Homo sapiens: one gene and its partner. The protein of the gene in region 1 purifies or fractionates together with the protein of each later gene. This does not show direct contact. Each region holds a gene or a part of one and is shown on either strand. Other genes may lie near its edges.

Evidence for each region.
Region 2: the proteins of GBP6 (region 1) and SIRT5 purify together in Homo sapiens (affinity purification with mass spectrometry; one large-scale study listed by BioGRID and IntAct). This does not show direct contact.

The regions. Positions count from the first base shown.
Region 1 is NC_000001.11:89,370,359-89,374,189, forward strand, and holds part of GBP6 (guanylate-binding protein 6), read left to right. Parts: intron 1-3,831.
Region 2 is NC_000006.12:13,598,572-13,602,402, forward strand, and holds part of SIRT5 (NAD-dependent protein deacylase sirtuin-5, mitochondrial), read left to right. Parts: intron 1-458; exon of another isoform or gene 459-460; coding exon 461-584; exon of another isoform or gene 585-1,070; intron 1,071-2,262; coding exon 2,263-2,378; intron 2,379-2,509; coding exon of another isoform or gene 2,510-2,549; exon of another isoform or gene 2,550-3,066; intron 3,067-3,831. UniProt on the Homo sapiens protein: NAD-dependent lysine demalonylase, desuccinylase and deglutarylase that specifically removes malonyl, succinyl and glutaryl groups on target proteins.

The DNA of each region.
Region 1 (3,831 bases):
TTTGAGGGTTGGAATTAGGAGAGTTCAGTTTATATTTCTCATGATGAAGCTCATCAATTACCCACAGAGCATTCTGGAAGGCTTTGAGACATTTCTGATTGTGCTCATCATAAAAAAGTATTTGTTCTTCCTACAATAAACATTATAAGATGAATTTTTGATATTTAGCTTCTTATGAATGGGTGAAATAAATAATTTCTCTCTTTTATTATCTTACTTTGAGAGTTATTTGGGAATGGGTTCTAAATTTCTATACACTTTATTTTTGCCCAAACAGGCGTTAGAAATTCTGTTTATTTTTCTGCTTTAGTGTTGTATAATTGACAAATAAAAATTATATATAATTAAGCTGTACAACTTAATGTTTTGGTATGTGTATACACTGTGAAATGATCACCACAATCCAGCCAATAATATAGCTGTTACCTCACATAGTTACCGTTTTCTTTTTTCTATGCTCTCTTTTTATTTTTTGGTGTGGTAAGAACAATTAAGATCTGTCCTCTTAGCGGAAGTGAAGGTCACAATCAATATAGTATTGTTACTTATAGTCACACTGCTGTACGGTAGATCTCCAGAGTTTATTTATCTTTCATAACTGAAATTTTGAACTCTGTCACCAACATTTCTTCATTTCTCGCATCCCCAGCCCCTGGCAACCACTATTATACTCTGCTGCTATGAGTTTAACTATTTGACTATTTTAGATTCCACAAATAGGTGAGATCATGCAGTATTTGTCTTTCTATGTCTGACTTATTTCACTTAGCATAACGACCTCAGTGTTCATCTATGTTGTTGCAAATGACAAAATTCCCTTTTTTGAGATTGAATATATATAGACGGATTCGCAGCTGAATTCTACCAGAGGTACAAGGAGGAGCTGGTACCATTCCTTCTGAAACTATTCCAATCAATAGAAAAAGATGGAATCCTCCCTAACTCATTTTATGAGGCCAGCATCATCCTGATACCAAAGCCTGGCAGAGACACAACAACAAAAAAAGAGAATTTTGGACCAATATCCCTGATGAACATCAATGCAAAAATCCTCAATAAAATACTGGCAAACCGAATCCAGCAGCACATCAAAAAGCTTATCCACCATGATCAAGTGGGCTTCATCCCTGGGATGCAAGGCTGGTTCAACATATGCAAATCAATAAACATAATCCAGCATAAAAAGAGAACCAAACACAAAAACCACATGATTATCTCAATAGATGCAGAAAAGGCCTTTGACAAAATCCAACAGCTCTTCATGCTAAAAACTCTCAATAAATTAGGTATTGATGGGACGTATTTCAAAATAATAAGAGCTATTTATGTCAAACCCACAGCCAATATCAGACTGAATGGACAAAAACTGGAAGCATTCCCTTTGAAAACTGGCACAAGACAGGGATGCCCTCTCTCACCACTCCTATTCAACATAGTGTTGGAAGTTCTGGCCAGGGCAATAAGGCAGGAGAAAGAAATAAAGGGTATTCAATTAGGAAAAGAGGAAGTCAAATTGTCCCTGTTTGCAGATGACATGATTGTATATCTAGAAAACCACATCATCTCAGCCCAAAATCTCCTTAAGCTGATAAGCAACTTCAGCAAAGTCTCAGGATACAAAATCAATGTGCAAAAATCACAAGCATTCTTACACACCAATAACAGACAAACAGAGAGCCAAATCATGAATGAACTCCCATTCACAATTGCTTCAAAGAGAATAAAATACCTAGGAATCCAACTTACAAGGGATGTGAAGGACCTCTTCAAGGAGAACTACAAACCACTGTGCAATGAAATAAAAGAGGACACAAACAAATGGAAGAGCATTCCATGCTCATGGATAGGAAGAATCAATATTGTGGAAATGGCCATACGGCCCAAGGTAATTTATAGATTCAATGCCATCCCCATCAAACTACCAATGACTTTCTTCAGAGAATTGGAAAAACTACTTTAAAGTTCATATGGAACCAAAAAAGAGCCCACATTGCCAAGACAGTCCTAAGCCAAAAGAACAAAGTTGGAGGCATCATGCTACCTGACTTCAAACTATACTACAAGGCTACAGTAACCAAAATAGCATGGTACTGGTACAAAAACAGAGATATAGATCAATGGAACAGGACAGAGCTCTCAGAAATAATACCACACATCTACAACCATCTGATCTTTGACAAACCTGACAAGAACAAGAAATAGGGAAAGGATTCCCTATTTGATAAATGGTGCTGGGAAAACTGGCTAGCCATATATAGAAAGCTGAAACTGGATCCCTTCCTTACACCTTATACAAAAATTAATTCAAGATGGATTAAAGACTTAAATGTTAAGCCTAAACCCATAAAAACTCTAGAAGAGAACCTAGGCAATACCATTTAGGACATAGGCATGGGCAAAGACTTCATGTCTAAAACACCAAAAGCAATGGCAACAAAAGCCAAAATTGACAAATGGGATCTAATTAAACTAAAGAGCTTCTGCACAGCAAAAGAAACTACCATCAGAGTGAACAGGCAACCTACAGAATGGGAGAAAATTTTTGCAATTGACTCATCTGACAAAGGGCTAATATCCAGAATCTACAATGAACTCAAACAAATTTACAAGAAAAAAACAAACAACCCCATCAAAAAGTGGGCAAAGGATATGAACAGACACTTCTCAAAAGAAGACATTTATGCACCCAGCAGACACATGAAAAAACGCTCATCATCACTGGCCATCAGAGAAATGCAAATCAAAACCACAATGAGATACCATCTCACACCAATTAGAATGGTGATCATTAAAAAGTCAGGAAGCAACAAGTGCTGGAGAGGATGTGGAGAAATAGGAACACTTTTACACTGTTGGTGGGACCGTAAACTAGTTCAACCATTGTGGAAGACAGTGTGGCGATTCCTCAAGGATCTAGAACTAGAAATACCATTTGACCCAGCCATCTCATTACTGGGTATATACCCAAAGGATTATAGATCATGCTGCTATAAAGACACATGCACATGTATGTTTATTGCGGCACTATTCACAGTAGCAAAGACTTGGAACCAACCCAGATGTCCATCAGTGATAGACTGGATTAAGAAAATGTGGCACATATACACCATGGAATACTATGCAGCCATAAAAAATGATGAGTTCATGTCCTTTGTAGGCACATGGATGAAGCTGGAAACCATCATTCTCAGCAAACTATCACAAGGACAAAAAACCAAACACCACATGTTCTCACTCATAGGTGGGAATTGAACAATGAAAACACTTGGACACAGGGTGGGGAACATCACACACCAGGGCCTGTCGTGAGGTGGCAGGAGCAGGGAGGGATAGCATTAGGAGATATACCTAATGTAAATGATGAGTTAATGGGTGCAGCACACCAACATGGCACATGTATACATATGTAACAAACCTGCATGTTGTGCACATGTACCCTAGAACTTAAAGTATAATAAAAATATATAAATTATATATATATTCAATAAATATATATATGCATGCTATGGATAGTTTGGCTGTGTCCTCACCCAAATCTCATCTTGAATTGTAGTTCCCATAATCCCCGCATGTCGTGGGAGGGACCTGGTGGGAGGTAATTGAATCATGTGGGTGGTTTCCCCATGCTATTCTCGTGATAGTGAGTAAGTTCTCATGAGAGCTGATCATTTTATAAGGGGATTCCCCCTTTACTTGGCTATCATTCTTCTCTCTCCTGCTACCATGTGAAGAAGGATGTGTTTGCTTCCCCTTCCACCATGATTGTAAGTTTCCTGAGGCCTCCCTAGCCATGCTGACCTGTGAGTCAAACCTCTTTCCTGTGTAAATTGT
Region 2 (3,831 bases), on another chromosome or scaffold:
GTAATCCCAGCACTTTGGGAGGCCGAGGAGGGCAGATCACCTGAGGTCAGCAGTTTGAGACCAGCCCGGCGAATGTGGTGAAACATGTCTCTACTAAGAATACGAAAATTAGCTGGGTGTGGTCACACATGACTGTAGTCCCAGCTGCTCGGGAGGCTGAGGCAGAATTGCTTGAACCTGGGAGGCAGAGGTTGCAGTGAGCGGAGACCATGGCATTGCACTTCCGCCTGGGCAGCAGAGTGAGACTCCGTCTCAAAAAAAAAAAAAAAAAAAAAGACCATTAAACCTGATGCTTCATAAGCAAGGCAAGTTTATATAGGCTGGGAGGGAGGGTGTAGGGAATAAGAGGCATCAGAGGTGACCCATCTGGATGTACTAGGTTTGGGGCAGCCCCTGGCCTCCCTCCGATCCAGCTGGGCAGACTTGGCTCGGGGTTGGCTTAAGGATCCCATTCTTCCAGGTGTGAAGAGGCAGGCTGCGGGGGCTTGCTGCGACCTCACGTCGTGTGGTTTGGAGAAAACCTGGATCCTGCCATTCTGGAGGAGGTTGACAGAGAGCTCGCCCACTGTGATTTATGTCTAGTGGTGGGTCATGCCCTTCCCTAACCCCAGGACAGGACTGGAGTTTGTTATTTTTTCCTTCCCCCTCTCCTCTTTTCCTTCCTCCCTCCCTTGCTTCTTTCCTTCCCGCCTTCTCTCCTCCCTCCATTTCTTCCTTTCCTTCAAATGTATGTTGAGAGGTCTTTGTGGTATCCTATAGAAAAACTGAGAAACAATGAATAAGAATTTGTATTAAAATAGGAAACCATGCATGTCTTGGGCATCTCAAAGCCTCCTCCCCCAGCCCCACCAAAAACAAAGAAAAGAACATGCTATTGGTTTTTTAAATAATACATGCTTATGATTAAATTTAATTGAGAACATGCAAAAATTATCACATTATAAAGAGGAAATTAGAAATCGCCCATAGTTCTGCTATCCAGAAATAGTTACCGTTAGCAGTTTAGTATGTTTTCTTCTAGACCCAGGAGTGAGCAAACAGCAGCCTTTGGGCCACATTGGGCCTGCTACCTGTTTTTGGAAATAAAGTTTTATTGGAACTCAGCCACACTCATTCTTCCACACACTGTCTATGACTACTTTCAAACTACAAGTGGCAGAGTTGAGTACTTGTGACAGAGATTGAATGGCCTGCAAAGCCTGAAAAATTTACTGTATGGTCATTTTCAGAATAAGTTTGCCCACCTCTGGTCTAAACCTTTTCTTATGCAGATGTACACGTATTAATTAAAATTCAAAACTGAGTTCATGACATATGTTCTGTTTTGAAACTACTTTGTTCACGCAGCAGTTCACTTAGCATGTTCCATATCAATATGTCTAAATCAATATCATCTTTCAATTGACTGTATGGTGTTATATATGGATAAGGAATGATATATTTAGCTAATTCTCTACTGTAAGACATTTGGGCTATTTCAAATTTTGATAGTTTAATCAATGATATCGTGAATATCCTTAGATAGAAATCTTAGCATGCTCTTCAAATGATTTCCTTAGGACACATTTCCTAAAAGTGGGATTCATTGGACAGATTGTATGCGTATTTCAAATTTTTCTTGACACGTCTTTAAAAGCAGAGGCACTTTCTTGTGGTGCGTATTCATTCAGCCAGTATTTAAAGAATGCTTCCCAGTGTTGAGTATAGTGCCACTGTTGATGATGGATTGTTAAATGAGAAAAGCCGGTTTACAAAACAGGTCATGCTCTTCCCATCCCTGTAAAGAATGTTTATAAGCAAATATTTATAAGAGAAAACCTAAGAGGACATACATGAAAATGTTAACAGTGGTTATCTTGCGGTAAGATTATGGATGATATGTATGTTTTTTTCTTCGTATTTTCTACCTTAAACAAAAAGATAGAAAATATGTTTTAAAAAGTTATGGATCATTTGTTTAACTTTAAAAAGCAGAAACAAAACCAGAATTAACCCCAAAACATGTTGATTGAGTCACTTCTATGTCACTCTTTGCATAACTCTCCTTTTCATGTCACATATTCTTCTCGATTCTAGTGATTGATCAAAGGACACCTCTTCACTTTCCCTTGTCCCTTGGACACCCTGTTTTATCCCATCCTGTTTGGCTTTTCTCACACCTGCAACCACAGACCTGCCTGAGTTTGTGTAAGGTTTTCTGAAATAATGTTCCTTCTCCTTGTCGTCTGGCTGTTTGTTCATCTCCGTGTACTTGCCTTGTAGGTGGGCACTTCCTCTGTGGTGTACCCAGCAGCCATGTTTGCCCCCCAGGTGGCTGCCAGGGGCGTGCCAGTGGCTGAATTTAACACGGAGACCACCCCAGCTACGAACAGATTCAGGTACTGGGATACCCTGATGGGAGAGGGAGATGTGGGAGGCAGGTACAGACATGGTCATCTAAACATAGTTGACCTACTCCTCTAATTTTTAAAAAAGACATAGGGTTTGTGTTTTTTTGTTTGATCTGCAGTTGCTTTTATGGAAGAACAAAATCATTCACTGTAGACTAAGGTAGGGTAGCTCTGTCATTGTATGCGAAATTTGCCGTGGGACTTTTGTTTGTTCACATTTTGAACGCTCTTCTTGGATTCCTTAGGCTTTGCTTTCCCTTACATTTTTAAGCTAGACTTAGTGATGACCTGTAGTTGTAGGTTACCCAAATGCTCCGCAAGTAAGCCTGGGAGATGCCCTTGCAGAACCTCATCACCTGCCGTTCTTACTGGGAGGCCACCTGGCAGATACCCCTTTGGTCTAATCGCCAAGGTTATTTGTATCTGTGGCCATATTATGACACTGATCCTGCTTCCCAAGTTTGGGTGGGAAGTGTAGATTGTCATAGTATGCATTTTTAGTCTTATTCCTGGGTCTGTTTTATTTCTTCATCCATGTTCTGTCTTTTTTCTCACCCCAACTTTTTTTTGCTTTTACCTCTAATTCTTGTCCATCTAGTTAATTCCTTTTGAATAAGTTAGAATATAAATAAGTAGTAAATTAATATAAATGAATAAAATAGAAAACTTCATTGAACCATCTTGTCATTACTTTAATCAACAGTTTCCAACCTTGGCTGCATATTTTAAAAATACTGATGCCTGGGTGCCACCTCATGAAATTTCGATGTCATTGCTCTGAGTTGCAGCCCAGACATCATCATTTTGATAAGCTTCCTAGGTGATTCCTGTGTGCAGCCAGGATAGGAACCACTCTTCTAAGTCTTTGCTGGGATTTAAAAAAAAAAAAGAAAAAAGAAAGAAAAGGGGCCACAGACACTTCAGTAGGCCCCTCCTCAAGTGAGTGAACTGGCTCTGAGCCTCTTCTTTTCCATGTGTCTTTTTGATCAGCTACAGCCTGTGTTCTTGATCCATAGTTCTTCATCTGTGTGTGAGTAGTAGGAACTAAGAAGATAGCCTTAAAAAAAAATTGCCTCCTATGCAAAACTTATACTCTGAAAACTACAGAACATTATTGAAAGAAATAAGGAAGGCCTAAATGAATGGAAACATATCCAGTGTTCATGGATTGGACAACTTAATATGATTAAGATGGCAATGCTCCCCAAATTGATCTATGGGCTCAATCAACTCAGTCCCTATCAAAATCACAACTGGCTTTTGACAGCAATTAATTGAAAAGATTAATCTAAAATTCATATGAAAATGCAAGGGACCCAAAATAGCCAAAACAAAATGAAAAATGAAGTTGGAGAACTCATACTTCCCAATTTCAAAACTTACTATGTATTAACTAGGCATGATGGCACATGCCTGTAATCCCAGCTACTTGGGAGGCTGA